4 linked regions of the Homo sapiens genome follow. The protein of the gene in region 1 purifies or fractionates together with the protein of each later gene. This does not show direct contact. Each region holds a gene or a part of one and is shown in the gene's direction. Other genes may lie near its edges. The genes, in order: ZNF2, MRPS9, RBM34 and RBM19.

Evidence for each region.
Region 2: the proteins of ZNF2 (region 1) and MRPS9 purify together in Homo sapiens (co-immunoprecipitation; 3 studies listed by BioGRID and IntAct, with this or other methods). This does not show direct contact.
Region 3: the proteins of ZNF2 (region 1) and RBM34 purify together in Homo sapiens (affinity purification with mass spectrometry; 2 studies listed by BioGRID and IntAct, with this or other methods). This does not show direct contact.
Region 4: the proteins of ZNF2 (region 1) and RBM19 purify together in Homo sapiens (affinity purification with mass spectrometry; 2 studies listed by BioGRID and IntAct, with this or other methods). This does not show direct contact.

The regions. Positions count from the first base shown.
Region 1 is NC_000002.12:95,175,806-95,182,829, forward strand, and holds part of ZNF2 (zinc finger protein 2), read left to right. Parts: intron 1-382; 5' UTR 383-421; coding exon 422-454; intron 455-1,677; coding exon 1,678-1,804; intron 1,805-4,353; coding exon 4,354-4,467; intron 4,468-5,258; coding exon of another isoform or gene 5,259-5,297; coding exon 5,298-6,301; 3' UTR 6,302-7,024. UniProt on the Homo sapiens protein: May be involved in transcriptional regulation.
Region 2 is NC_000002.12:105,041,054-105,048,077, forward strand, and holds part of MRPS9 (small ribosomal subunit protein uS9m), read left to right. Parts: intron 1-7,024.
Region 3 is NC_000001.11:235,158,227-235,166,122, reverse strand, and holds the start of RBM34 (RNA-binding protein 34), read left to right. Parts: upstream 1-4,872; 5' UTR 4,873-4,896; coding exon 4,897-4,949; intron 4,950-5,055; coding exon 5,056-5,230; exon of another isoform or gene 5,231-5,475; coding exon 5,476-5,612; intron 5,613-5,621; exon of another isoform or gene 5,622-7,896.
Region 4 is NC_000012.12:113,956,311-113,963,334, reverse strand, and holds part of RBM19 (probable RNA-binding protein 19), read left to right. Parts: intron 1-920; coding exon 921-1,103; intron 1,104-3,156; coding exon 3,157-3,276; intron 3,277-3,431; coding exon 3,432-3,470; intron 3,471-3,930; coding exon 3,931-4,123; intron 4,124-5,284; coding exon 5,285-5,553; intron 5,554-7,024. UniProt on the Homo sapiens protein: Plays a role in embryo pre-implantation development.

The DNA.
Region 1 (7,024 bases):
CTTTGATATGTCTTGTCCATGTAGTCATTTATAAAATTGCTAATGGCTTTTGCCCAGTAATCATTCAGGGCAATATTGAATGTGAATTTTTACGTACTGTGTGAATCTTACACAGTTCTTGACTCTCAGGAACAGAACTCTGCCTCTAGCATCGTGGTAAAAACCACCACCACATTGTGGTCTAATTCGCAGTTCCATGGTTGTTGGCTCTAATTCTGGGGTGGTCTGGGATTGTTCCTGGCTTTGCTTTACTTAGACCCCCTTTTGTAAGGTATTGAGGATGACATATCCCCCTGGTATGTGCTTCATGGGTCAAAAGACTATGCGACAGGACTGGTCTTTCTCCTACCTTCTTTCTCACCCCCCACTTCTGCCTCATTAGGACTCTGCCCTTGTCCACAAGGAGAGCACACAGGAGAGAATGGCTGCTGTGTCTCCGACCACCAGATGCCAGGTGAGGTGGACTTTTGTGTTCCCGAAATACTCCATTCATCTCCAGAATGTAACCACTTTTCTTTCTCTATCCTGGAGCCTCTTTGAGCAGACCCAGCCAGGCAGATGAAGGACTCCACAGGGAGTATTTCTTTCCTATTTGACTTGAGGTATCCTTTAGTGACCTTTTCTTGCTGTGAGCATGTGCCCATTAGCTTGTCACCAGGCTTAACAACTCCTGGAGCCTTCACTGTGAGTGATTTTGCCTAGAAGCCAATGGTAGGGTCTGATTGGAAGGTTTGGGGAATAGTGGGCTGGTTCTGGTCCTGACAGTCCCTTTGGTACATTCATGTGTGGACTGAGAGGAGGCTCCAGTGTTCCAGGGAGTGTGGGGCTAGGCTGGGGCGTGTGATACACACTGTAGAGCACCTCTGTGGGGTGCTAAGAGCCCTGAAGAGAGTCTCCTGTGCTAGAGACTGTGTGGCTTGCTCCATTCCTGCCCGAGGGCAGAGTCTTAAATTCTGCATCCTGGCCTAGAACTTTTGCAGACACACTGGAGACTCATCTGAGGTTTTAGAACTGAAGGTAAAGAGATGCAATCTTACAGAATCACAGAGCATTAGAATGAAATGAGAGGGATCCTACAGATGATCTAATCAACACCATTATTCTAAGGATTTGTAAAAAAAAAAAGACAATTGGTGAAATTTGAGTAAGATTGTAGATTAGATAATAGTATAAGATCAATGCTATTTTCTCCATTTTTTATAGTTATACTGTGATTATAACAACAGTACATCCTTGTTTTTACAAAATACACACTGAAATATTTAGGATTAAAGACACATGATGTTGACAAGTTAGTCAAGAGGCCTAACAAAAAGATAGGAGAATGTGTATCTAGAGAGAGACAGAAAAATAAAGTAAATGTGGAAAATGTTGACAGTTGAGGAAGCCAGGTGAAGGGTACACAGGAATTTTTTTGTGCTGTTTTTAGAAGTCTGAAAAAAGAGTCTGATATTCAGAAGCTCAGCTGTAAGTATAGTGGTGTGAGATTCTGACCAAGAACTTCATGTCTTGGGTGATGAGGCCACTTTTCCCAAATGCTTTAAAGTTCTACTCAGTCAGAACTGTTTTTCTTTCCTCCCACCATGCGTCCTCCAGGGCTGTCATCTTTGACATTTTTGGTCTGGTCCAAGTAAAGAGAAGGATTAAGAGTAAGGGAGAATGTGATTGTATTTTCAGGAATCAGTGACATTCGAAGACGTTGCCGTGGTTTTCACAGATGAAGAGTGGAGTCGTCTGGTCCCCATACAGAGGGACCTCTACAAGGAGGTGATGCTGGAGAACTATAACAGCATTGTGTCATTGGGTAAGGGGAGCCTCCATGAGGAGGTACAGTCTGTACTATGCTAATGTGGGGCTGAGAGGGCTGAGGAATTAATACCGTTCTCCTCCCCGCTGAGTTCTGAGCCACCTGAGAGATAAAGTAAGAGTCGAAAGATGTGGCATCAGAGTACAGCAACGGCGGGCTCAATACTGAACCCCAGCATTGGGCAGACATGCCTCCCCAGCCATGGGCAGTGCTGGATGACCATAGGCTCTCTCGCTCAGCAGCCTGCCCGGCAAAATTCAGGGAGGGCCAGCGAGGGCTGAGGGACAGAGCGGAATGTGTGTTAGAGGCAGGGAGCTGGCGCTCCAGAGGGGCAGGCAGAAGACGCTGAGTTTCATATGCCCAGTTCTCCCAGTTCGCCAGTTAGGTAACTCAGCTCACCCAGAGGAGTGTGCGCTGGGGTAGGGGGCCATCTTGTCGGAATTCAGGGTTGTGCCTCTGAGGTCACCAGATATATGTTTGATTTTGAATATTTGTCTTAGGTACAGTCTTAGATGCTCACAGAAGACACTTTGTAATTATAGAGACTTGTGTGACAAAGAGAAAGTTAAGAGTCACTGCTGATTCTGGTGTTAGTGAAAAGTAAAGTTGGGCTCCTGGAGGTTATGAGAACCTTTCAGGAGCTTCACGAGAGGCTGAGAGAGTGCCCAGATTGAGAAACCGGCTTAAAATAAGCAGCAGATGGCAGTAAAAGGAGTCACATTGCAGATTTCCTACGAGGCAGGTCAAAAAGTAAGTGCTAACACCCCCCAGATTAACTTAATCAGGCCAATTGTCTCCCAAACAGAATGGAATATTCAGGAGGCATCAAAGGAGCATTTGTTACAGGCTTTAGTAGATGGCATATTGAGGAAAATAGAACCCCTGAGGTCAGGGACAGAGAGCCACAGGGAGATGCTGGGTGTGGCCGTTTTGTCAACAGAGAATCCACAGAAAACCCGGTAGACAATCCTTGGGCCCAATAAGAAAGTGCCTCTTTCCCAAGTTGGGGCCTCAGCAAAAGGGAAGTTTAGAGCCCAAGCCTATTTCCAGGATCTATTTTTTAATATAACCAAAAATGGATAGATTTGCTTCAGGGAATTTATCCTAAGGAAATAATAGGACTAGTAGTCCATGGTGTATGCAGATGTTCATCACACTATTGTTTGTTAATAGCAAAACGTTAAAAATGGTCTAAATTTCTATCATAAGGGAATTCATTAAATAAATTATGTTATCCATACAATGTCATATCCCGTAGCCATTACAATGGTGAGGTAGATCAGTACTGATATAAATAAAATGGTATTTTAAATTTATTGTGTGAAAAAAAATCAGCTTTACAAATCAGCGTCATTTCATTATCCAGGTTTGGTTTTTTTTGTTTTTTTTTTTTTTTTGAGACAGAGTCTCACTCTGTTGCCTAGGTTGGAGTGCAGTGATGCAATCTCGGCTCACTGCAACCTCTGTCTCCAGGGTTCAAGCAATTCTCGTGCCTCAGTCTCCCAAGTAGCTGGGATTACAGCCATGGGCCACCATGCCCTGCTAATTTTTGTATTTTTAGTAGAGACAGGGTTTCACCATGTTGGCCAGGCTGGTCTTGAACTCCTGACCTCAGGTGATCCACCCATCTCGGCCTCCCAAAGTGCTGGGATTACTGGCAGGAGCCACTGTGCCCAGCCTCATTATCCAGTTTTTAACAGAATGTATTTATGGGTGTCTTTGGATATCTGAATAGAAAGAAAGAAAATACACTGTAGGCAAGGTGATTTTTTCTTTTTGCTTGTATACACTTCTAATTTTCCTAGAATGCACCGGACAGACTTGTTTCAATGAAAGCACAATGTTCAAGGCAAACAAATAAACAAAAATGGGCAGTTTGGATACACTTTTTACTCAAGGTGACTTAATTTCATTCTCATCTCTCCTAAGCCAACGACCTTCATCCTACCAGTGCTAACACTGGGAACTTCCCATTCACTTCACAGGGAAGAATAAACACGTGAATCTACACGGGTTCTCTCAACCTTCTGACCTTGTGCCACTTGCTCCTTTTATAGCCTCAGTCCTGGCCTCCGTCCAGAGGTTCCTCTGCTTTGGACTCTGCATTCTTGGCTTGTGCGTTCTGCCTTTTGCATTTTCTCTCTAAAAGACTTAGATGCTGTGGCCAGGCTCAGTGGCTCATGCCTGTAATCCCAGCTCTTTGGGAGGCCGCGGCAGGTGGATCACCTGAGGTCAGGAGTTCGAAACCAGCGTGGCCATGATGGCAAAGCCCCATCTCTACTAAAAATACAAAAATTAGCCAGGTGTGGTGGCACCCGCCTATAATTCCAGCTACTTGGGAGGCTGAGGCAGGAGAATCACTTGAACCTGGGAGATGGAGGTTGCAGTGAGCCGAGATCAGGCCACAGCATTCCAGCCTGGGCGACAGAGTGAGATGCTGTCTCAACAACAACAAAAAAATCTTAGAGGCTGGGATTGAGCTTTGGGAGAGTGATATTATTTTCATCACACACAGCCACCTGCTTTGTTTCTTTCTCTTTGAGCAGGCCTTCCAGTTCCTCAACCTGATGTGATTTTCCAATTGAAGAGAGGGGACAAGCCGTGGATGGTAGATCTTCATGGGTCTGAGGAGAGAGAATGGCCAGAGAGTGTCTCTCTAGGTAACTGAGTGTGAACAAGACAGAATGGAATTTTGTTTGGCTTTTTGTTATTTGGGTGATGGGGGAAATAACAGGTATCATCTTTCTCTCAAATTCAAGTCTTCTGCTTTATTATTTATTGTATATCACCCAATAGCTTTTATTTTTTTCCCTCTACACCTTAACGTGTTATTCATCTATATTCACCAAGTGTTACTTTCTCACGTCTGTAACGTTGTGCACTCACACTTTGCTATTTCTTTTTTTTTTTTTTTTGAGACAGAGTCTCGCTCTGTTGCCCAGGCTGGAGTGCAATGGCGCTATCTCAGCTCACTGTAACCTCCACCTCCCAGGTTCAAGCGATTCTGCCTGCCTCAGCCTCCCAAGTAGCTGGGATTACAGGCACCCGCTACCACGCCTGGATAATTTTTGTATTTTAGTAGAGATGGGGTTTCGCCATGATGGCCATGCTGGTCTCGAACTCCTGACCTCAGGTGATCCGCCCACCTTGGCCTCCCAAAGTGCTAGGATTACAGGTGTGAGCCACCATGCCCAGCCACACTTTGCTATTGCTATTGAGTGCCATCCTGTCTATTCGGCATGCTCTCCTGATTGTCCTGGCCATGCTCCCACTGGACATTCTCCTGTTTTCTGAGGTGTCCACCATCCATTCTGTTCCCTGCCACCTTCTTCACTCCCAGGTCTTAGTCCCTCCCTGCCGTGTAAGACTATCTATGGGAGCAAGCAATGCAGTGACCATACATTACTTTCAGACTCATCGGAGCATCTCTTCTTTCTGTAATATTTCCTAGCCCAGGAAAAAAACTGCATCTGTTTTCTGTTTGTTCCAGACTGGGAAACTAAGCCTGAGATTCACGATGCTTCAGACAAAAAATCAGAAGGATCATTGAGGGAATGCCTTGGAAGGCAAAGTCCTCTGTGTCCTAAATTTGAAGTTCATACACCCAATGGCAGGATGGGAACAGAAAAGCAAAGCCCTTCAGGGGAGACTCGTAAGAAATCCCTCTCCCGGGACAAAGGCTTGCGGCGACGGTCAGCCCTGTCCAGGGAAATTCTCACTAAAGAGAGACACCAGGAATGCAGTGACTGTGGGAAGACCTTTTTTGACCACTCATCCCTCACCCGCCATCAGAGGACTCACACTGGGGAGAAGCCCTACGACTGCCGCGAGTGTGGGAAAGCCTTCAGCCACAGGAGCAGCCTCAGCAGACATCTGATGTCACACACTGGGGAGAGCCCCTACGAGTGCAGTGTGTGCTCAAAAGCCTTCTTTGACCGTTCGTCCCTAACTGTCCATCAGCGAATTCACACTGGAGAGAAACCCTTTCAGTGCAACGAGTGTGGAAAAGCCTTTTTTGACCGTTCATCCCTTACTCGACACCAGAGAATTCACACTGGAGAAAGTCCTTATGAATGTCATCAGTGTGGGAAAGCCTTTAGCCAGAAAAGTATTCTTACTCGCCATCAGCTAATCCACACTGGCAGGAAGCCTTATGAGTGTAACGAGTGCGGGAAAGCTTTCTATGGTGTCTCGTCTCTGAATAGACATCAGAAAGCTCATGCTGGGGACCCTCGCTATCAGTGTAACGAGTGTGGCAAAGCTTTCTTTGACCGCTCATCCCTTACACAGCATCAGAAGATCCACACTGGAGACAAGCCATATGAATGCAGCGAATGCGGGAAAGCCTTTAGCCAGCGGTGCCGGCTCACGCGGCATCAGCGTGTCCACACGGGAGAGAAGCCCTTTGAATGCACTGTGTGTGGGAAAGTTTTCAGTTCAAAATCTTCTGTTATTCAACATCAACGGCGTTACGCCAAACAGGGAATAGACTGAGTTGGGCAAAAGCTTGGGTAGGACAAGAACTTCCATACAAATTTGAGATAGATCTCGCCTGTCTTAAAGCTGCCATTTGCTCATTCTACCCACTCTGGCTGCCGTTGTCCTGTCCTGCTTCTGCGCCAGAGTGTTTAATAAGCACTCCCTTCCTGCTGTGTTATAGAACTGTAGGGGAGGCCATGGAAATGACTCTAAAGATACAAAATTTTGAAGAGGTTTGTCAGACAATAGGATAGATGTTAGGAGGAGACACACCTCTTGTCTGAGAACCTAGGCCCCAGGTATCACTGCACTTTAAGAAACTGGAGGCTGCAACAGGAGGGAAAGGCAGAATGATATCACAGCAGTACTATTTTTTTTTTTCAGAACATTTGTTTTGATGGCTGTTAGTCCCCCTCTCTTGGAGCATTTTGGGGCACTAATCTTGTTCTCTTGTGTCCCAGCTTTTAGACCTCTTACTTCCACTGCTAGTAGCTAGCACTTACTGAGCACCTGCGATGAGGTAAAGACTCAGCTAAGGGTTTTACAGGAAGTAGATTAATTGATCCTGTCACCAACCATATGAAGTAGGCACTGTTACCATCTGCATCTCCAGATGAGCACCCTGAGGTTTAGAGAGATTAAATCACTTGCCCAAGGTGAACCAGCTGGTAAAAGGTGATGCCAGGTCTTGAAGACAGGTCCACCTTCAAAATCTATTCTCTTTACCATTATGCTCGA
Region 2 (7,024 bases), 9.9 Mb from region 1:
GGTCTGGAAAGTTTGGCAGGAATCAGTATGATCTGTTTTGCTATGCTAAGGTAGCTGAATTTTTTACCTCTCACAAATGAAAATAGTGTTAGCATTATTATGAGCAGTTGACAGTTTCCTTCCATGCTGTACTACAAAGGTTACCCATGAATTCATAAATCCTCTATCAATATAGCTAATATAGGAATGCTAATTTGGTTTTCTATAATATTTGTGATTTTTATAATAAGGAAAAACAAAAGACCAATTGCTATTTTGAAAAATATTTCTACAAAACACTAATAGGGTGTTTTCTTAATTATTCTCTACTACTGAACACTTTCCTAGTGCTTAAATATTCAGTTTTTGCCAAGCCAAGATGCCTTTGTTGATTTAGACCATCTGCCAGAGAAGTGATCAATGACATTAAATGGCTTGGCCCTTTATATTTTGGTTTCCACTGTAAACACATTCCTGTCTCTGTCTAAAGTATCTGTTTTTTTTTTTTTAATCTCTCATGCTTCTGGAGGTTATAATATCCTGTATTTATCACAGCATTCTATTGATCTGCTTTAGTAGGATCTTAATACATTTTTTTTGACAAATGGCTAAAAAACGCTTTGAAAAACAAATTGTATAATTGACTTGAATTTGTATCAGATGCTCTGTACAGCTCTGTAAATTAGTTATGCCCTACCCCGATAATTTTTGAATATATTTATTTTTAATCCCAGTTTATTAGCAACAGAAAAGCCCTTTGGTAGGATAAACTGTTCCCTTTGAGATCTAATCCTGTCCTTGTAAGGATAGAATTGAGTGTGTTCCTCATTGCTGTAATTAGGAAAAATACCTCTACATTAAAATTTACAGTCTTTATTTGGCAATTTATATGTTTCTTATATAATAAGAGCTTGATAATAAATGCTACTATCATTCTCACCTCTCTTTTCCTTGTAAAACAAGATAACTAAACTTTCTTGTACAATGCTTCATTGTAATTAGGATGATGAACGTATCAGTTATTTATTGCTACATAACAAATTATCCTAAAACCTAGCAGCTTAAACAACAGACATTTGTTATCTACAGTTTCTGTGGGTCAGGGTTCTCCAGGCACACTTTGTTGGGTCCTCTTGCTCAGGGTCTCTGGTAAGGCAAGAGTCCAGGTATTGGCCGGGGCTGCAGTCATCTCAAGGCTCCACTGTGGGTGGGGAGAGTCTGCTTCTAGGCTCACTCAGTGTTGTAGTTAGCAGGATTTAGATTCTTGCAGGCTGTCGGGCTGAAGGCCCCAGGTCCTTGCTGGCTGTTGGCCAGAGCCCTCCCTCAGCTCCTGCCACATGGGCCTCTAGGGCAACTCAGCACATCTGGCTTCCCTCAGGCTGATGAAGAAAAGGTAAGCAAGAGAGAAGAACAGCAGGTGGCAGATTCACTGGGAGCCATCTTGGAAGCTGCCTACAACAGTGGAAGACCCACATATACTTATTTTCTTGTTATCTAAGTGTCTCTCTCATGTATTTAGGTCTTTCTTCTATGGTTCTTATGTGTGGGCATATATGGGTACCTATGTGTGTGCACATGTGGGTACATCTGAACACCTGCTGTATCATTCTTTTTGTCAGATAGGATTATTAGCTTAAACAAAACTGCATCTTTACTATGTTTTGTTTTCTTATCTCATTATAGCAACATTCTCACTTTAACATCACTCATTTCTTCTTTACAATTATTTCTGTTAACATTTAATACAGAGCCTGGTCTATAATAATTGCTCAGATTTGTTAAATGAACTTGTAAAGTAGTTTATTTTTAGAATTTTATTCTGCAAAACCAAGCATATAAAAATAGAATAATATAATGAACTCCACAGATCCATCAACCAGCTTCAACAATTATTAATAATTTCCCAGTCTTGTTTTTATTTCTCCCCTCCCACCCCCCAGAGTCATTTAATGTAAACCCCAGACATTCTGTTATTTTACTTATAGGTACTTGAATATGCATCTCTAACATAAAGGTTTTTTTAAAAAAATAGATTCCTTGCCACCGCCATATCTAACAGAATGAACAGTAATTTCTTATCATCTATTACCTATTTCATGTTCAAATTTCCCTGAATGTCCCAACAGTAGCTTTTTGTATATAGTTGGTTTATTTTAATTGGGAGTTAAACAGGGTTTATGCGTTTTATTTGATTGGTAAGTATGTTAAGTGTCTTAATTTATAACAGATTATAGAATTAATGTAAATGGTAAATTTTGTTTAAGTAAGTGGATTTCTTATTTGTTTAACATAGTATCCGTTTCCCCTTCATAGTAGTATCCCAGTTTCCCCAGGAGGAATTAGTTCTTTTTCGCTGGTTATAGTTGAGAAGACCTAGCTATAGTCCCGAATAATCTGGGGCACCTGACTCAAAGTAATCCTCAGATGTTCCTCCTCCTGAGATCCTGAGCATAGAGGCAGGACAGTTGGAATACCGTTTTGTCTTAATGGACACATTCTGATTGAACCTGCATGGATAACTTTTAGCTGATAGAGATCCCTTGGACCCTGCCTGCTTTCCTTTCTTTTTTCTTTCCTTTTTTTTAGAATTTTTATTTATTTTTATGTTTTATTTTTTGAGACAAGAGTCTTGCTCTGTCACCCGGGCTGGAGTGTGCAGTGGTGCAATCTCGGCTCACTGCAACCTCCGCCTCCTGGGTTCAAGCAGTTCTCCTGCCTCAGCCTCCCAAGTAGCTGGGATTACAGGTGCCCACCACCACACCCAGCTGATTTTTATATTTTTAGTAGTGACAAGGTTTCACTTTGTTGGCCAGGCTGGTCTCAAACTCCTGAGCTTGTGATCGGCCTGCCTTGGCTTCCGGAAGTGCTGGGATTACAGGCGTGAGTCACCACGCCCGGCTGCAATTTTTTTTTTTTTTTCTAAGATGGAGTCTTGCTCTGTTGCCCAGGCTGGAGTGCAGCGGTGTGATTTCGGCTCACTGCAACCTCCGCCTTCTGGGTTCAAGTGAGTCTCCTGCCTCAGCCTCCCAAGTAGCTGGGATTATAGGTGCCTGACACCATGCCCAGCTAATTTTTGTATTTTTAGTAGAGATGGGGTTTCACCATGTTGGCCAGGCTAGTGTCGAACTCCTGACAGTTGATCCGCCCACTTCGGCCTCCCAAAGTGCTGGGATTACAGGCATGAGCCACTGCGCCTGGCTGCAAATTGTTCTTAACAGTGGCAAAGCAAATTCCCTTCAAGAATTCTTGGTGTTTTTAGCTAAAGATCTGTTTTTTTCACACTCTTAGCCTCACCTTATTTAATGGATTGTACCAATGAATAATGGACTCCTTTGAATGTAAATATTTTTGTGTGAATTCATTGCTGGAATAATTCTGGACTTTTAATAAACATATTCAATATCCTGCTACTGATGCTGTGATAACTTTGTAAATTTAATATTATAAATTTCCAGAATGCCATACTCTTAAGCAATGTGTAGAAATGTCTTTGAAAAAGATCCTAAGGACTTTTTATGAAAAATAGCAAATTAGGGCCATTTTTTTAAAGCCCTTTCTAAATGGACAACAATGAAAATGTTTATAAATATGTTTAAACCTCAATTATGTTAAAAGTAGGAAAGCCACCACCTTATGTCACAAACTCTGGAGACTATAGGCAGACACAATTTTAAATCAAGTGAAAAACCAAGTCTTCAATAATCGAGACTCTTTTGCTTGAGAAGATGCTAAAATGTTGTAGGAGCAAAAGGAACAGTGTGGAAGAGACAGCTGAAGAAAATACAAAGGGATATTTACCTAACAAAATGGAAGAATTATTTTACCACAGCTACTTAACACTGTCAAGGACATTTAAAAATCAGTTGAGTGAGGAGGAGCTCTATGAGATGGGATAAGACAAGAAGATATGATTAAAGGAAACTGTTGAGGTAAGAATTTTGAGGATAGACCAATGATATAAAAAGCTAAAAATTCATAGTGGCTGCAGTAAGCAGAATTGACACTGTAGAAAGAGGGAAAAAAACATGGAGTAAAGATTTCAAAATCATACAGAATGCAGAAAAGGGATAAGAAATAAGACTAAGAGAAGCTGATCTAAACTATGGAGAACAGAAGAACAGATAATTGCTGTGGCTGAAAAAGAGCTGAATAAGTCAGTAAGAATTCATTGGATATTTATTTTTGAAGTTGATAGTACATTTAAACATTTTATTCAGAGACACATGTATTGTCACTGGTAAAATGAGAGCAAGCTGTATATGGTCCAAATTGCCAGCTCAAAAGCCAAAAAAAAAAGAAAACCCAATTCTTTTTTTTTTTTCATATAGCAAAAGAAAGAAAATAGGAAGGAAGCATTAAAAAATGTAAAGATTAAATAAGATGAATGACAAGACCGAATAGCTGTTAAACCCCATGTAACTTGGGTATTCTCATCTACTAAAATCTCAGATTGGGTTAAAAAAACAAAACCTAAAAAAAATAGTCTAAAACTTAAATGAAAAAGATGGGCAGTGATATTCCAGGGAAATGTAAATAGGAGGTTGAAAGGGTTGCAATATTATGACCCAACAGAATTGAAGAAAAAAAATATTACATAGGAGTAGAAAACTTTGTAATGCTGAACGGTACAATCTACCCTAAGATGTAACTCTCTGGAACTAAATAGCACATTGAATATACCGATGAAACATACAAAAGAAACCAACCATAGGGAAATAAAATTGACAAAAGATTACAGACATTGTATGGATATAGATTCCTGTCTGGAATTATTCTCCTGGCTCACTAGTAATGAGAATTACCTCTAAGTATGAATGAATACTTAAAATTTTTTTCTCTAATTTCTTTGGGAGACAGAGTCTCCCTCTGTTGCCCAGGCTGGAGTGCAGTGGTGCGATCTTGGCTAACTGCAACCTCCGGCTCCCCGGTTCAAGCGATTCTCCTGCCTCAGCCTCCTGAATGACTGGTATTACAGGCGCACACCACCATGCCCTGCTAATTTTTGTAATTTTTAGTAGAGATGGGGTCTCACAATGTTGGCCAGGCTGGTCTCAAACTCCTGACCTCAAGTGATCCACCTGCCTTGGCCTCCCAAAGTGCTAGAATTACAGGCGTGAGCCACCGCACCCAGACATCTCTAATTTCTTTCTGACAGTTTTTCTGTCTATACTTTACAACCACTGCATCACAGTTCTTTGAATATGAGGTGTTCAGTCTGTTAAACCTACCGCCTTTTGCTCTCAGCAGACAGACCATCTTCTATTTCATAGAGAAAATAGAGGGTGTAAGACATAAGTAACCTTGCCTTTCTGCCTACCTTCCCTCACCTACAAACAATTTGTTTCATTACTAGTAGAAGACATGTTTTTTGTCCTAACGCTAATGCTTGCCATTTTTTCTCCTTCTCTTTTAAGTGTCAACATCATGTCTCAGGTGATTAACAGACCTGTATCTGAAGCTCAGGTCTGTCCATGCTCACACCCACAAAGCCACCTGCCTCCTGGACATCTGTCTTCCTGGGATGTCCATCAACATCTCACACACATTCTCAAATTTGAACGCATCACTTTCCTCCCTGATCTTGCTCCTCCTCTGGAATCCCTTCAGTGAAAGGAGCCATACGCTCCAGGAGGCACATTTCCTGAGGGCTGTGGTTGGTGATTGGCAGGGAGTGTGGTTGTAGTGACCTAAAAGAAAGTCTTTGTGGGTTCACCTGTATTAGGGTTGTTTTAGCTGTGAACAAAAACATTTTGTCATGTTATCTATAAAAACCAGCAGTGTAATCATCCTTTTGGCAATGGAACATTTGGGAGAATTATCTACTATATGATTGCTACTTTTTGGCCCCCAAATCACACCTTTGCTATGATTCTTGGGGTAGAAAGATAATTTCTCTTCACTTTGAATATGTGAAGCAACATTCTCCATTGCCCAAAGAAGACGTAGACTCATAAAGAACAAATTTTAAAATCCCCTGGAAAACAGTAAAAACGTTAAGATGGGAACCACTATGGTAGGGAGTTGGTGCTGGTGGCGCTGGGCTGTGGCAAGGGGAGCAGGGGTGTACAGACAGGCTGTGTCTATAAAAGAGCGGACCATGCATTAGCCAGTTGTGGTCATGCTTTTACTCATTGACAGCAATACTGTATCTTCACAAAGCATTGTGAGAAACGATAATGATTGGTTAGTAATATATTTTAGAAGGATGTGATCTCCTAAGTAAAAATAAACTCAAGTTTCAGAGAATTTTAAATTGCCCTTTTCTTACTCATTAAAAAGTAAGAAGAAACTCTATTTTTACTATCTTAATTTGGAAGAGTTTAAAAACATATATTTTTTTCATTAATTGGGTATTGTTACATTTCTCCTGTATTTTTTCTTATATTTTCTTGTGTAACTTTAGTGACAAATTACTGTAGAGGCATCTGAATTTAGGACTCTTGGAAGGGAAGGGGATGGAGGTAGGAGGGATGGTGCCAGTGAATGATGTCTGTCTGAGAGAGATTTATGTTTATGAAAAAGGAAGTGAGTGGATTCCTAAGATTGTGGTTTTAAGGCCTGAATATTGCTTTAAGAGTGTTTAGAATTGTTGGGGCCAGGATGAAGGTTGAGAACTACAGGTTTGAGATCTTAAGAAAAGCCAGGACCAGAAAGATCTGTTCTAGTTATTTCCAGCTACGGGATGCAGCTGAATGTCATTTGAAAACATTTTTCTCGTTTTTTAGCATCTTTGACTGAAGGCGAAATCTTCATGCCTTGGAGGGAAATTCCTAGTGCCACAGCATAAAAGGACCAGCAGCAGCAAGTGTGATATAATTACTGATGCCTTTAAAAGATATGCGAGCCCTTTGGGTATATACCCAGTAATGGGATGGCTGGGTCAAATAGTATTTCTAGTTCTAGATCACTGAGGAATCGCCACACTGACTTCCACAATGGTTGAACTAGTTTACGGTCCCACCAACAGTGTAAAAGTGTTCCTATTTCTCCACATCCTCTCCATAAAGACACATGCACACGTATGTTTATTGCGGCACTATTCACA
Region 3 (7,896 bases), on another chromosome or scaffold:
GTACCTGGATGTTGATCTTTAATTTTTAAAGGTCTCTAGTGATATTAATATGCATCTGGGTTGAGAAACACTGCTTTGCCGCAAACTTCTAAAAATCTATAATCTAGTTTTTTGGCCCCACTTATTGGACTTTCTACCAACAGAAAACCTTTCTTGGCTGGGCGCAGTGGCTCAACGCCTGTAATCCTAGCACTTTGGGAGGCCGAGGCAGGCGGATCACGAGGTCAAGAGATCGAGACCATCCTGGCCAACATGGGGAAACCGTATCTCTACTAAATATACAAAAAAAAAATTAGCCAAGCGTGGTAGTGGGCGCCTGTAGTCCCAGCTACTCGAGAGGTTGAGGCAGGAGAATGGCATGAACCTGGGGGGCGGAGCTTGCAGTAAGCCGAGATCGTGCCACTGCACTCCAGCCTGGGCAACAGAGCGAGACTCCGCCTCAAAAAAAAGAAAACCTTTCTTTAATACAGAGAGAGGCCGGGCGTGGTGGCTTAATGCCTGTAATCCCAGCACTTTGGGAGGTTGAGGTGGGTGGATCACCTGAGGTCAGGAGTTCGAAACCAGCCTGACCAACATGGTGAAACCCTGTCTCTACTAAAAATGCAAAATTAGCCGGTCATGGTGGCGCATGCCTGTAATCCCAGCTACTAGGGAGGCTGAGGCAGGAGAATCGCTTGAACCTGGGAGGCGGAGGTTGCAGTGAGCCAAGATTGCACTCCAGCCTGGGAAACAAGATTGAAACTCCGTCTCAAAAAAAAACAAAAACAAAAACAAAAACGAGAAAGGAAATCAACTTTTTTAAGGCCTAGAAAGCTTAAATACATATTTTTTAAAGCATCTTTGTGGTGGCCCTTTATTTTCACAAAAATTAGTTTAAGGGATGATATTTTAAATCTGTGGAACGGTGCTTCCCAAAATGAATTCCTAGAATACTGGTCCCTGGAAATGCTCTGGGAATTTATAACCAAATATATTTTGGAAAATCTATGTATAGCACATTCTTAGAGAATCACAGTGTTTGCATATTAAAAACTTTGAGAAGGCCTGTGAAGAGATACCTGCCTAATAACTTCCTTTACCCTACTGTTTTCAATCCCACCTAATCATGAAACCCTGTTTTTTGAGGAGCTCTTAATATCACATACTGAGTATGTTATAGAAACAGTGCTGAATAGGGGAATTATTCCAAATTTTGGTGGAGTCGAGATTTATGACTTTGTGCCTCTCTGTCTCGCCTGCCTTCTTGTTCTACGTCCTACCTTCTTAAGAGGGTTTGAGGATTTTATTGAATTAGTAGAATTGACCTATGTCTACTTCTGGTCACCTAAACTAGACTTTACTAAGTTAGTTTACAATTGACATATTAAGATGGTATGTTTTTCTTTTCTTTTTTTTCTTTTTTTGAGACGGAGTCTCACTCTGTTGCCCCAGGCTGGAGTGCAGTGGTGCAATCTTGGCTCACTGCAACTTCTGCCTCCCAGGTTCAAGTGATCCTCCTACTTCAGCCTCCCGAGTAGCTGGGACTACAGGCACGTGCCACTGCACCCAGCTAATTTTTTGTATTTTTAGTAGAGAGGGGTGTTTCACCGTGTTAGTCAGGATGGTCTCGATCTCCTGACCTCGTAATCTGCCCGCCTTGACCTCACAAAGTGTTGGGATTACAGGCATGAGCCACCGCGCCCACCCAAGATGATACGTTTCTTAACGGTGTTCTCCAAAACGTTTTTTTTCCTACTGAAAAAACTTTAGAGTGGGGTCTTGTTAATTTCTTTTTTTTGTTTGTTTTGTTTTGTTTTAGACAGAATCTCGCTCTGTCGCCCAGGCTGGAGTATAATGGCGCCATCTTGGCTCACTGCAACCTCTGCCTCCCGGGTTCAAGTGGTTCTCCTGCATCAGCCTCCCGACTAGCTGGGATTACAGGCGCCCGCCACCATGCCTAGCTAATTTTTGTATTTTTAGTAGAGATGGGGTTTCACCATGTTGGCCAGGCTGATCTCAAACTTCTGACCTCAGATGATCCACCCACCTCGGCCTCCCAAAGCGCTGGGATTACAGGCGTAAGCCACCGCACCCGGCCTCCTTTTGTTTTTTTGAGACGGAGTTTCGCTCTTGTTGCCCAGGCTGGAGTGCAAATGGCGCAGTCGCTGATCTGAAACTCCTGGGCTTGCATTCCTTCCGTCTTGGTCTCCCAAAGTGCTGGGATTATAGGCGTGAGCCACCTTGTCCCACCATGTCCTCATATTTTAAAAAACTCTCAAAGCAGTAAGTGATCTCTAAATGGTTAAAAACAGCACTGAACAGCAATGAAGATAATTTTAAAACTATCTGCAACCACAGCTGCTTTCGCAGTCTGTTTTCTTCTATAAGTATCTGCTACCTAGCTGGGCACAGTGGGTCATACCTGTAATCCCAGCACGTTGGGAGGTCAAGGCGAGCGGATCACCTGAGGTCAGGAGTTCGAGACCAGCCCGACCAACATGGAGAAACCCTGTCTCTATTAAAAATATAAAATTAGCCAGGCATGGTGGTGCATGCCTGTAATCCCAACTACTCGGGAGGCTGAGGCAGGAGAATCGCTTGAACCTGGGAGGCGGAGGTTGCAATGAGCCAAGATCGTGCCACTGCACTCCAGCCTGGGCAACAAGAGTGAAACTCCGTCTCAAAAAATACACAGAATAGAATTCTATAATTCTAGAAATATAGAATATAATTTCTTCACTGGACTGGATAGAACAGATTTTTGAGTTGTATCGCATGCATGTATGGATAAGCTTTCTTCATCTTTGTGAAATACCAGAAGATCAAGATTATGGGAAACCAAAATAAGGGGCCCAGTAATCAAAACCCAGGGCCGAGCAGTTGAATATTGTGGATTTTTTTCATAAATTTCTCTGAAGGGGGAAGTAAAAGTCACATATATTCCCAGTCAACTTGGTTGAGTAGCTTTCAAAAAGCTTAGGCTGTCCCCAAAAGACTCAAAGTCAAATCCTGGCTGGATGCAGTGGCTCACGCCTGTAATTCCAACCCTTTGGGAGGCCAAGGCAGGAGGACTGCTCAAGCTCAGGAGTTCAAGACCGGCCTGGGAAACACAGTGAAACCCCAATCTCTATTTAAAAAAAAAAAAAAAAAAAAAGGCCAGGCGCGGTGGCTCACACCTGTACTCCCAGCACTTTGGGAGGCTGAGGTGGGCGGATCACAAGGTCAGGGGTTCGAGACCAGCCTGGCTAACATGGTGAAACCCGGTCTCTACTAAAAAAATACAAAAATTAGCTGGGCATGGTGGCATGCACCTGTAATCCCAGCTACTTGGGAGGCTGAGGCAGGAGACTCACTTGAACCCGGGAGGCGGAGGTTGCAGTGAGCTGAGATCGCGCCACTGCAGTCCAGCCTGGGCGACAGAGCGAGACTCTGTCTCCAAAAAAAAAAAAAAAATTAGCTGGGCATGGTGCTGCTGCTTGCAGTTCCAGCTACTCCGTGGTGGGAGGATGGCTTGAGCCCAGGAAGTCAAGGCTGCAGTGCGCCGTGATCTCACCACTACACTCCAGTCTGGGTGACAGAGCAACACCTTGTCTGAAAGAAAATAAGAACAAAGTCAAATCCTATTTTGCCACTCAAACTATTGGATGATTTAACTAGTAATCTTTTATTACCCTGAGAGTCAATTTAACAAATATTCACTATGTACAGCTAATAGAGACACAGCATACATGATGAATAAAACATAATCCTTACTGTCTTGCCTTTACATCTAAAGAGACTGTAACTAACACTAAAGCAGACCAAAAATGATTATAGTAAGTACCATGGGGGCTTGGGAAAATATCCCTATTGTAAATAGCAAAGAATTTTTTTTTTTTTTTTTTTGAGCCAGGGTCTGCCGCTTAGGCTGGAGTGTAGTGATGCGATCACAGCTTACTGCAGCCTCGACCTTCCAGGGCTCAAGGGATCCTCTTGCCCGAGCCTCTCAAAGTGCTGGGACTACAGGCGCCGAGCGCGAAGGTGCCCGTCTAATTTCTTTTCTGTAGAGAATAAGTCTCGCTAGATCGACCAGGCTGGTTCAAACTCCTAGTCCTCACGCAATCCTCCCACTTCGGCCTCCAAATGTGTTAGGATTACAGGCGAGCCACCGCACCTGGCTGCAAAGAAATACTAAGTTAGACAGTATCTGAGGTAGGCCTTGAAGGATGGACATTATTTTGCAGAAGGGGAAAGAGGAGGGCAATTACAACAGAGGGGACAGGAATAACAACTGTAGAGGCAGTGGAGAAAGCAGGCTAGAATGTCAGGGGCTGGAGGGAGATGAGTCTGGGAAGACGGGCTGAGAACACCTTGAAGCGTTTTGAATGCCAAGTATCTACTTTTCCAGGTAGAATAGCAGGTCCGCATTACAATCTTTCGAATTGTATGTTGACGTGACTCGTTAGAGTTGTGGTTTTTATTTTGGAATAATGTCATGTTTCAGACAAGTTGCAAGAAGAGTACAAAGAATTCCTTTGTACTCTTCACAGCGATTAGCAAATTGTAAACACCCCACTGCGTTCACCCCTAACCGCATTTCTTGCCAAACCTCCCTCCCTCCTTTTCAACAAGTCAGTATTCTACGTGTTTCTCTCTCGGCTTGGGTGGACACCCCGCTCCTAGCCTGGCTGATTCTTCACACTGCAGGCTTCAACCACTCCCAGAAGACGTCCTTCACTCCCAAAATGAGGCTTTTCTGAAACGGCGAGGACCACCAACCGACGGCGACAAACCTGCTCCCTCACCCAGCGCCTCCCTTCGCCGCCGCCCGGCGGCCGACTGCCGGAGGGGAGGGGGCGTGGCCAGAGAGCGGAAGTGCCCGGAACCCGGAAGTGCGAGCTGGCGCGCAGCTGCAGTCTGGGAGTCTTTGGAGTAAGAATGGCCTTGGAAGGGATGAGCAAACGGAAGAGAAAGAGAAGTGTCCAGGAGGGGTGAGTGGCGCGCGGCACGAGTACCTGGGGAGGGATGTTGTACGTTCCCTCGTGCTGGCGAAGCGGTGGTGCGTGGCGTGGCTGAGTTTCTGTCGTCCATTTCTAGAGAGAATCCTGACGACGGCGTTCGCGGGAGTCCGCCGGAAGACTACAGGCTTGGACAGGTCGCCAGTAGCTTATTTCGCGGCGAACACCATTCCAGAGGTGGCACCGGTCGGCTGGCGTCCCTCTTCAGTTCTCTGGAGCCCCAGATTCAACCCGTGTACGTGCCTGTGCCTAAAGTAAGTCACTGGGCTTTCTTCCCGAATAGCTCGTTAGAACCACTTACATACAAAGCAATCTTCTTACCTACCGCGTGAAGCGTGATTTCTAAAGGGGGCAGACAGGATTCATTTTAAGTAACCTTTCATGACTCTTACATACCAGTGAGAGAGAAGAGATTCTCATTTAGAAAGACTGAATTATGGCTTAGGGTCAGAATTCTAGAAGTATGGGGTCTCAAATATAACTTCAAACTTTTAAAAAGCAAACCATCAAAAAAACGAAACGGAATGAGGAGGAAGAAAGTACATCCCAGATTGAAAGACCACTTTCGCAAGAACCTGCCAAAAAAGTGAAAGCGAAGAAGAAACACACTAACGCAGAAAAAAAGTTGGCAGACAGGTTGGTAAAATTCTCTTATTTGATGTTAAAGAAATTAGATGGTAAATTAACATTCCTATACTTGGAATATTCGTCAGTTTTATTTCATATTTCTACTTTCTTTCAAAACTTTTATTATGGAAAATCCAGTACATATAGAAAAGTTGAAAAGGCTAAGAAACCCCGTGTACTCAGCATCAGCAATTACTAATATTTGGCTAACCTTTTTGTATTTTTACCCCACTCATATACCCCCTCATTATTTGTTTTTGTTTGTTTTGAGATGGAGTCTTGATGCCACGCCCAGGCTGCAGTAGAGTGCAGTGATCTCAGCTCACTGCAACCTCCGCTTCCCAGGTTCAAGCGATTCTCCTGCCTCGGCCCTGAGTAGGTGGGACTACAGGCCTGCGTCACCATGCCCAGCTAATTTTTGTATTTTTAGTGGAGACAGGGTTTCACCATGTTGGCCAGGCAGGTCTGGAACTCCTGACCTCAAGCGATCTGCCCACCTCGGCCTCCGAAAGTGTTGAGATTACAGGTGTGAGCCACCTCGCCCAGCTACCACCTCATTATTTGGAAGCAAAATGAAAATTTATGTTTCATCTATAAATATTTCAGCATGTATATAAAAGAATTTGGTTTGCGTTTCTTTTTTTTTTTTTGAGACGGAGTTTTGCTCTTTTTGTCCAGACTGGAGTGCAGTGGCCTGATCTCAGCTCACTGCAACCTCCACCTCCCGGGTTTAAGTGATTTTTCCTGCCTCAGGCCTCCCGTGGAGCTGAGATTACAGGTGCCACCATGCCCGGTTAATTTTTTGTGTTTTTAGTAGAGACAGAGTTTCATCATGTTGGCCAGGTTGGTCTTGAACTCCTGACCTCAGGTGATCCACCCACCTCAGCCTCCTAAAGTGCAGGGATTATAGGCATGAGCCACTGCACCTGGCCTGGTTTGCTTTTTAAAAAAAAAATTTTTTTTTTTTTTTTTGAGCTGGAGTCTCACTCTGTCGCCAAGGCTGGAGTGCAGTGGCGCAATCTTGACTCACTGCAACCTCCGCCTCCTGGGTTCAAGTGATTCTTCTGCCTCAGCCTACTGAGCAGCTGGGACTATGGGCGCGCCATCACACCCAGCTGATTTTTGTATTCTTAGTAGAGACGGGGTGTCACCATATTGACCAGTCTGGTCTCGAACTCTTGACCTCATGATCCACTTGCCTCCGCCTCCCAAGGTGCTGGGATTACATACGTGAGCCATCACACCTGGCCGAGTTTGGTGTTCTTAAATTTATTCATTTCCCTCATTAACTTTTTTTTTTTTTTTTTGAGACAAGGTCTGGCTCTGTCACCCAGGTTGGAGTGCAGTGGTGCGATTGCGGCTCACTGCAATCTTTGCTTCCCAGACTCAATCCAGCCGCCCACCTCAGCCTCCTGTGTTGCTTAGACTATAGGCATGCCCCACCATGCCCAGCTAATTTTTGTATGTTTTGTAGAGACGGGATTTTGCCATGTTGCCCAGGCTGGTCGCAAACTGCTGGACTCAAGTGATCCAGTCAGCATTTTTTTTTTTTTTTTAGTAAAAAAATAGAAACAGGGTCTTGCTATGTTGCCCAGGCTAGTCCTGAACTCCTGGGCTCAAACCATCCTCCTACCTCCGTCTCCCCAAGTGCTAGGATTACAGGCATGACCCACCATGCCCGGCCAGCATAACGTTGTTTAACAGTGTATTTGAATCAAGATGCAAATAGTGATCCCATCACGTGTACCTAGCTAACAGTCTTCATTCCTCTCTTCTTTGCCACTCTCCTCAAGCCCCTTATTTCCTTTTCCCTTTTCTCATTTCAACTGAAGACCTTTGTACCAGTTCTGGAGCTGTTAATCACTGACAGTTGGGAACTGCTACTTTTTGTCCTATTTAAACTTAATGCATCTGTACACAGCCATATTTCTTCCCCTCTTTCTTAGAGCAGAGTGTCTTCCCTCTTGTCCAAGATTAACTCAACCACCTGGGTGCTGTGTGTACCACATATGTTCTGCCTTTTTAGGGACTGTGCCGTCAGATCCATCCACGTTCGCCTCTTTCCCTTATCCCTCGTTTTTTTTTGTTTTTTTTTTTTGTTTTGAGATGGCGTTTCACTGTTGTCGCCCAGGCTGGAGAGCAACAGTGCAATTTTTGCTCACTGCAACCTCCGCCTCTGGGTTCAAGCGATTCTCCTGCCTCAGCCTCCTGAGTAGCTGGGATTACAGGCGCCCACCACCACACCCAGCTAATTTTTGTATTTTTTTGGTAGAGATGGGGTTTCACCATGTTG
Region 4 (7,024 bases), on another chromosome or scaffold:
CCTGGCTGCAGTGAAGATGGTGAGAAGCCAGGAGCCTGTTTTCCATAGTGTGGGGCTTCTTGACCAAATTATAATAATAGTGTGTTAGTTTTTTAGTGCAGCTATAGCAAATTAGCACAAACTTAGTGGCTTAAACAATCCAGACAATCCTTATCTTACAGTTTTGCAGGTCAGAAATCCTAAAATCAAGGCTTTGGCAGGGCTGCAGTCCTTCTGGAAGCTCTGTGGGAATATCTGTCCCTTTGCCTTTTTTCAGCTTCTAGAAGCACCTGCCTTCCTTGGTTCATAGCTATATACTCCATATTTGGAGCCAATAGCATAGCATCTTCCAATCTTTCTGTTTCCATCTTCTCTGATCTTCCCGCCTCCCTCTCATAAGGACCCTTGAGGTGACATTGGACCTGGCTGCATAATCCAGATCATCTCCCCATCTCCATATCAGTCACACCTGACAAGTCCCTTTTGCCTTGTAAGGTAACATATCCACAGTTTCCAGGGATTAGGATGTGGGCATCTTTTGGGGGGGCTTTATTAACAAAGATATATATAGCTTACCATGCCTGTTCATTCTTTCATTTATTCCTACAAGTATTTATTAGGTATCTACTATGTAGCAGACGTAATACTGCTTCTGTAATTGGTCTTATCCTCATAGGAGCCCCATAGGGTAGGAAGATGTCATTTGCAGCCATTATGAGTCATGATTTCCACATCAGTGAGTGGTTAAGGGACTTTCTCAAGGCCACACAACTCGTGCTAGAGTCAGAGCTGGAACCTGTTGTAACTAGAAAAGTACACTCTGCCCCTCTTCATCTAAGGCCACCCTTGGAGAATCTCGTGGCCTCAGGTTTCCAGCCCATTTTGTCCCCTTGCTCTGGGGACTTTCCAGTTCGTCTCTCATTCCTTTCCCTCTGTCCTAGATGAAGGAGGAGCGTTTCAGGCAGCTGTTTGCCGCCTTCGGCACGCTGACAGACTGCAGCCTGAAGTTCACCAAAGATGGCAAGTTCCGCAAGTTTGGTTTTATTGGCTTCAAGTCCGAGGAAGAGGCCCAGAAGGCACAGAAGCATTTCAACAAGAGCTTCATCGACACATCCCGGATCACAGTGAGTGGGCAGGAGTCTCACCCTTACCTTCCTGTCAAGTGTGACGTTGTTTGATCTTTCACTCAGCACTTGAGTTCAAAGACCGTCCCTCTTCACTTTGTGATGTCTTTGGTTTTCTTCCTCACCGATTCACACACTTTCATGTGCATACAAATCACCTGAGAGCTTATTATAACAGCTTCCTGGGCCCGTCCCCAGAGCATCTGATTCAGTGCATGGAGTCAGGACCCAAGAATTCACACATCCAACAAGCCCTCAGGTGACGACCATGCTGCTGGTCTGAGGCCCACACCTTGAGAACCACAGCTCTACCTCATCCATTCACTCATGCATTTAGCAAGCACTCAATGATGCTGGGAGTTTAGAGAAAAAGGTGATGCCTCAGCCCCTGTCCTCATGGAGCCTGCTGTCTCTGGGCAGGCAGGGGGCTGACAGGTCAGCAGGCTGCTTTGGCTCAGTGACATCAGTGCTATGATAGGGTGAGCCCCAGGGACTGTGGGAGAACAAAGATCTATAGCCGGACCAGGGAGGAGTCAGGAAAGCTTCCTGGAGGAGTGGGCTCCACTCAGGTCACTCGTGTATTTAGTGACTTCGTAAAAACATCTCTAATGCTTTGTTGAGAAGGAAAAAACAGATGATGGATAAATATATATATGTCTCGTGATCCTATATAGACACAATCGTATTCCTCTATCCATACATATATGATAAATGCATAGAAGGCCATAGGATAGGATTTGTACCAAAATACTAATCATTCCTCTCCATGAGTGATAGGAATTGGAGTACATCTTTTTTAACTTCCATTGTACTTTTGTATATTATTTGAATTTTGTACCGTGAGCATGTCATTATTATAGAGATAACAAGCCTATTTTGGAAGTGTGCACAAAAGGGATTGTAACTGGCCAGGTGTGGTGGCTCCTGCCTATAATACAAGCACTTTGGGAGGCTGAGGTGGGAGGATCACTTGAAGCCAGGAGTTCAAGACCAGCCTGTGCAACATAGCAAGACTGCGTCTTTACAAAAATAAAAAAAAAAATTAGCCGGGCATGGTGACATGTGCCTGGAGTCCTAGGTATTCAGAAGGCTGAGACAAGAGGATCACTTGAGCCCAAGAGTTTGAGGCTGCAGTGAGCTATGATCATGCCACTGCAGTCCAGCCTGGGCAACGGAGTGAGACCCTGTGTCTTAAAAAGGATTGCAACCAGATGGCAGCTCCTTCCCCCAGGGGCAGTGGTTGGTTGACCAGCGTCAGCCTTAACTGTGGCTGGGAGTGGCTTGCGGTGGTGGATGCCCCAGTAACCAGCGCTCTCAAAGTCCTCTCAGAGGAGTGTATTGGAGGTTTTAGGGCCTGAATAGTGCGTCAGCTCAGGCTGGGTCTCCAGTACTCTTCCGTCCCTCCAGTGGTCACCCCAGTGCCCCTATCACCCTAGAATTGTTCTCTGGAGCCAGATGAGCTTACTTTATGATAATTAACCCAGGGCAGTGTGGGGTAACTGTGGTAGCCACTGCCCCACATTACCCTGCCCAGAGCCTGGTTGAGTGCTTGGCCCAGGTCATCTCATGCCATCCTCACAGCCGCCCGGTAGAGTGGATGGTTAAGAACTCAGGTTCCAGAGCCCAGAGACCCCCTGAGTTCCAGTCTTCACTCTGTCACTTATTACCTGGGTAAGCCAGGGAAATTGACTTCTTGATGCTCCAATTTCTTGATCTGAATTGTAGAAAGTCATAGCTGTCACTGACATGAGAGGCTCGGTGTATCAGTACTTGCAGAGCACTTCAGACAGTACCTGGCATGTGGAGTTCCTCAGTAAGTGGCAGCTATTACCATTACAGTATTACAGACTCATAATGATAGACTGTTAGAGTATTGTATTCTAGACTTGAAGGGAAAGAAAGCCCAGGCTAAGGGGTGACGTGTAATCTACTTCAGCAAACTCAGCTAGGCAGTGACAGTTGTCTGAAATGCCCGAGCTCCCAGGTGCCGAAGGGCAGCACCCAACGCCTGGGTGCCATGGCAGGTGTGAAAATCACTCTCTTTCCCACACAGGTGGAGTTCTGCAAGTCATTCGGGGACCCGGCCAAACCCAGAGCCTGGAGCAAACATGCCCAGAAACCAAGCCAGCCCAAGCAGCCTCCAAAAGACTCTACTACTCCAGAAATTAAGAAAGTATGTAAAGGGTCACTCTAGCCTCTGTCCCCACTGCCAGCAGGGTAGTCACTCACTTTTGGTTCCCAAAGATGGGCCCTCCCAGGTCAGTGCAGTTCTGTTTCCCAGCTCTCTTCATCTGTGTGACCCTCACTCTCTGTGCCTTCTGTTTTCAGGATGAGAAGAAGAAAAAGGTGGCAGGTCAACTGGAGAAGGTGAGTCTGTCCTGTTGCCCAAGGAGGAGAGAGGGTGGGCAGCAGGTGGAAGAGGGTGGAGACTGGAGAGGGTAGAGGCTGGGAGAGGGTGGAGGCTAGGAGACCGTAGAGGCTGGAGAGGGTGGAGGCTAGGAAAGGGAAGAGGCTGGAGAGGGTGGACACTGGGAGAGGGAAGAGGCTGGAGAGGATGGAGGCTGGCCCTGGCAAGCAGAGCTGTGCCTCTGGTCTCCCCTGGCCTTGTCTTCTTGTCCTCTTAGTTTTGTCTAGTGAGGAGTCAACTCTGCCTTCCTCAGAACTGACCCAGCTGAACCTCGGGGTCCTCCAGAGAATGGGGGAAATTAGCTTGAGGGATCTTCTCACCCTCTTAAGAGTTAGAAAGATCAAGCCCCACCTGAGCCTTCTCTGCCTCTTCCTCTCTCTTTTTCCCGTGTCCCTGCCGCCCGGGTTCTGGTGCCACCAGCTGAAGGAGGATACAGAGTTCCAGGAGTTTCTGTCAGTTCATCAGAGGCGGGCGCAGGCAGCCACTTGGGCGAATGATGGCCTGGATGCTGAGCCCTCGAAAGGGAAGAGCAAGCCGGCCAGTGACTACCTGAACTTCGACTCCGATTCTGGGCAGGAGAGTGAGGAGGAGGGAGCCGGGGAGGACCTGGAAGGTGAGGGCATGGGGACTGTGTGCTCCATGCGCACGGACCTGTGCTTGCCATTGGGCTAACCGGCACTGGGGGCCCCTCTGTGCAGACTCTAGGAGTCAGGTGAGCCCTTGAGCTCTCCATTGGGGGTGATGATCCCTCTGCAGGTGCATCTGTCTTCACTGATCCTAGTTGTGTATTCAGTCAGTCAGTCAACAAATATTTCTTGAGCACCTATTATCTGCCAGGCATACTTCAGGCATTGGGACCATGTTGATAAGCAAAAGACAGAAGGGTTTATTCCCCTATGGAGCTGTGATTATGGTTGTGGAGAGAAACAATAAGCAAATAAGTCCACTGTTGGGTATATCATAGGATGATGAATGCTACAGAGAGAAAGCAGGAAAGGCGACAGGAGAATTATGAGGGAAGGCCTCCCTGAGGAGGTGAGGGAGTGAGCCTTTGTCCTCAGAAGGGGTTTGTGGTGTGGGGGAGGCCTGGTGGGCAAGAAAACAGTTGCAACACAGGAGGGTACGTGCTTGGTGGAGAACTGGGCATCTATTTGGGTCTAAAGGTGAGAAGATGTACATTTAGTGCAGTTATGCCTGGTAACGTTTCTGCACTAAGTTCACATCCGAGGAACTCAGGGGACTTAGTGGGACACGGTAGGGGAGGGGAGAGGAAAGGGGTTCCAGTCAAGGGAACAGCATCGCAGAGACACAGAGGAAAGGAAAGTGCATGGGCTTGAGGGGCTCAATGTGGGTTGGGATGGCTTGAGCAGGAGGAGACAGTGGAAGAAGCCCACGCAGCCAGCCCTGATGAGGAGCCTGGATTTCACCCTGAGCATTCAGAAACCCCTGGAGGGTATTAAGCAGAGACTGACCGTCCTGTACCTACTCTGTAAAGTGTCACAGAGGCTGCCGTGTAGAGGACTAGGAAGACATGGCTGGTGGCAGGGAGCCAGGAGCTCAATGTGTGGCACAGAGAATATCAAAGCTGCAGTAGCCCTGCCCCGTTTTGGTATTGCTAATCAGAGGACTTATGGGGGATGCTGGGCACAGGGGCCATGGACACGGTGGGCATGGTGCCTCAGGCCTCTCACTAGGAGGACCATCTACCATTTGCTACCTCTGACCTCTGGTTTGCTCATAGCTGTCGCTGATCCCAGCTTCCCTGTTTTTCCAGAAGAGGCAAGCCTCGAACCAAAGGCAGCTGTGCAGAAGGAGCTGTCGGACATGGATTACCTGAAATCCAAGATGGTGAAGGCTGGGTCGTCCTCTTCCTCGGAGGAAGAGGAAAGTGAAGATGAAGCCGTGCACTGTGATGAAGGGAGTGAGGCCGAGGAAGAGGATTCCTCCGCCACCCCAGTCCTGCAGGAAAGAGACAGCAAGGGTGCAGGCCAAGAGCAAGGGATGCCAGCTGGGAAAAAGAGACCACCGGAGGCCAGAGCCGAGGTGCGTGTGTATCCCGCAGGTGATGAGGGAGGAGGTGCGCTCTCCTGCTTGCCCGTGGTCCCCACAGCTCCTCTGTTAGGAGAGCGGAATGTTGGGGAAAGACGCAGCTCTGCAGTCCAAAGCCTTCCCGATCTTGGCCCTGCCGCTTGCTCGCCGTGTGTTCTTTCTGCGTTTCTTTTCTGTTTTTATTTTTATTTTATTTTATTTTATTTTTTGAGACAGAGTCTCACTCTGTCACCCAGGCTGGAGTGCGGTGGTGCAATCTCAGCTCACTGCAACCTCCGCCTCCTGGGTTCAAGTGATTCTTCTGCCTCAGCCTCCTGAGTAGCTGGGATTATAGTCACACCCAGCTAATTTTTTGTATTTTTAGTCGAAATGGGGTTTTGTCATGTTAGCCAGGCTGGTCTCAAACTCCTGACCTCAAGTGATCCACTCATCTCAGCCTCCCAAAGTGCTGGGATTATAGGCATGAGCCACTGCACCCAGCCTCTGCATTTATTTTCTGTTGCTAACCTGGAGAGGTCACCTGCCTTCCAGAAATTGCCTATAAGTAGGGTGACAACTAAATTATTGTCAACACTAAGTTAAAAGTGAGATGCTAGTCCAGTGGGGTGCCAGGCTGTGGATGTAGTTACTGCAGGTCTAATGACTACAGATAGAGTGAACAACTATCCCGGGCAAACTGGAGCAGCCCCGGTCAACACACCCATATCCCACCAATGGGGCAGAAGTGAGCTGAGTGATGGCTTTGAGCCTTTATCCTTTGTATTTAGTAACAACACAGGCAGAGGGGTGCAGACCAGTCATCAGCAATCATAGGGAGGATCAACTGAGCCTGCGCTACACACTAGGCACCATGCCTGCCGTGCCGTTGCATCTCATCACTATCTGGAGGGCAGTATTGGTCTTGTTCCATTTTACAGATGAGGAAACAGGCCTGGAGAAGGAAGGTGCCTCAGCCAGGGTCATGGCTGGGAAATGGTGGGTTCAGGACTTAGCCCCAGGTCTGTGGGGTCTGAAGTCGAGATCATAAACGTGGGCGCTTCCCCAGAGGTCGGCCAACTCGTCTCTGACCTGGGAGTCCTCTCTGCATCAGAGACAGAGCAGTTTGACATGTTGTCCAGGTCCCTGTTCCCTCCTTTCTCTGTGAAGCATCACTTCTCTCCCTGCCTAGCCCTGTATTTTTTTTTTTTTTTTTTTTTTTTGAGACAGTCTTGCTGTCGCCCAGGCTGGAGTGCAGTGGTGTGATCTCAGCTCACTGCAGCCTCTGCCTCCCGGGTTCAAGTGATTCTCATGCCTCAGCCTCCCGAGTAGCTGGGATTACAGGCACACACCACCACACCCAGCTAATTTTTGTATTTTTAGTAGAGATGGAGTTTCACCATATTGTCCAGGCTGATCTTGAGCTCCTGGCCTCAAGTGATCAACCCACCTCAGCCTCCCAAATTGCTGGGATTACAGGCCTGAGCCA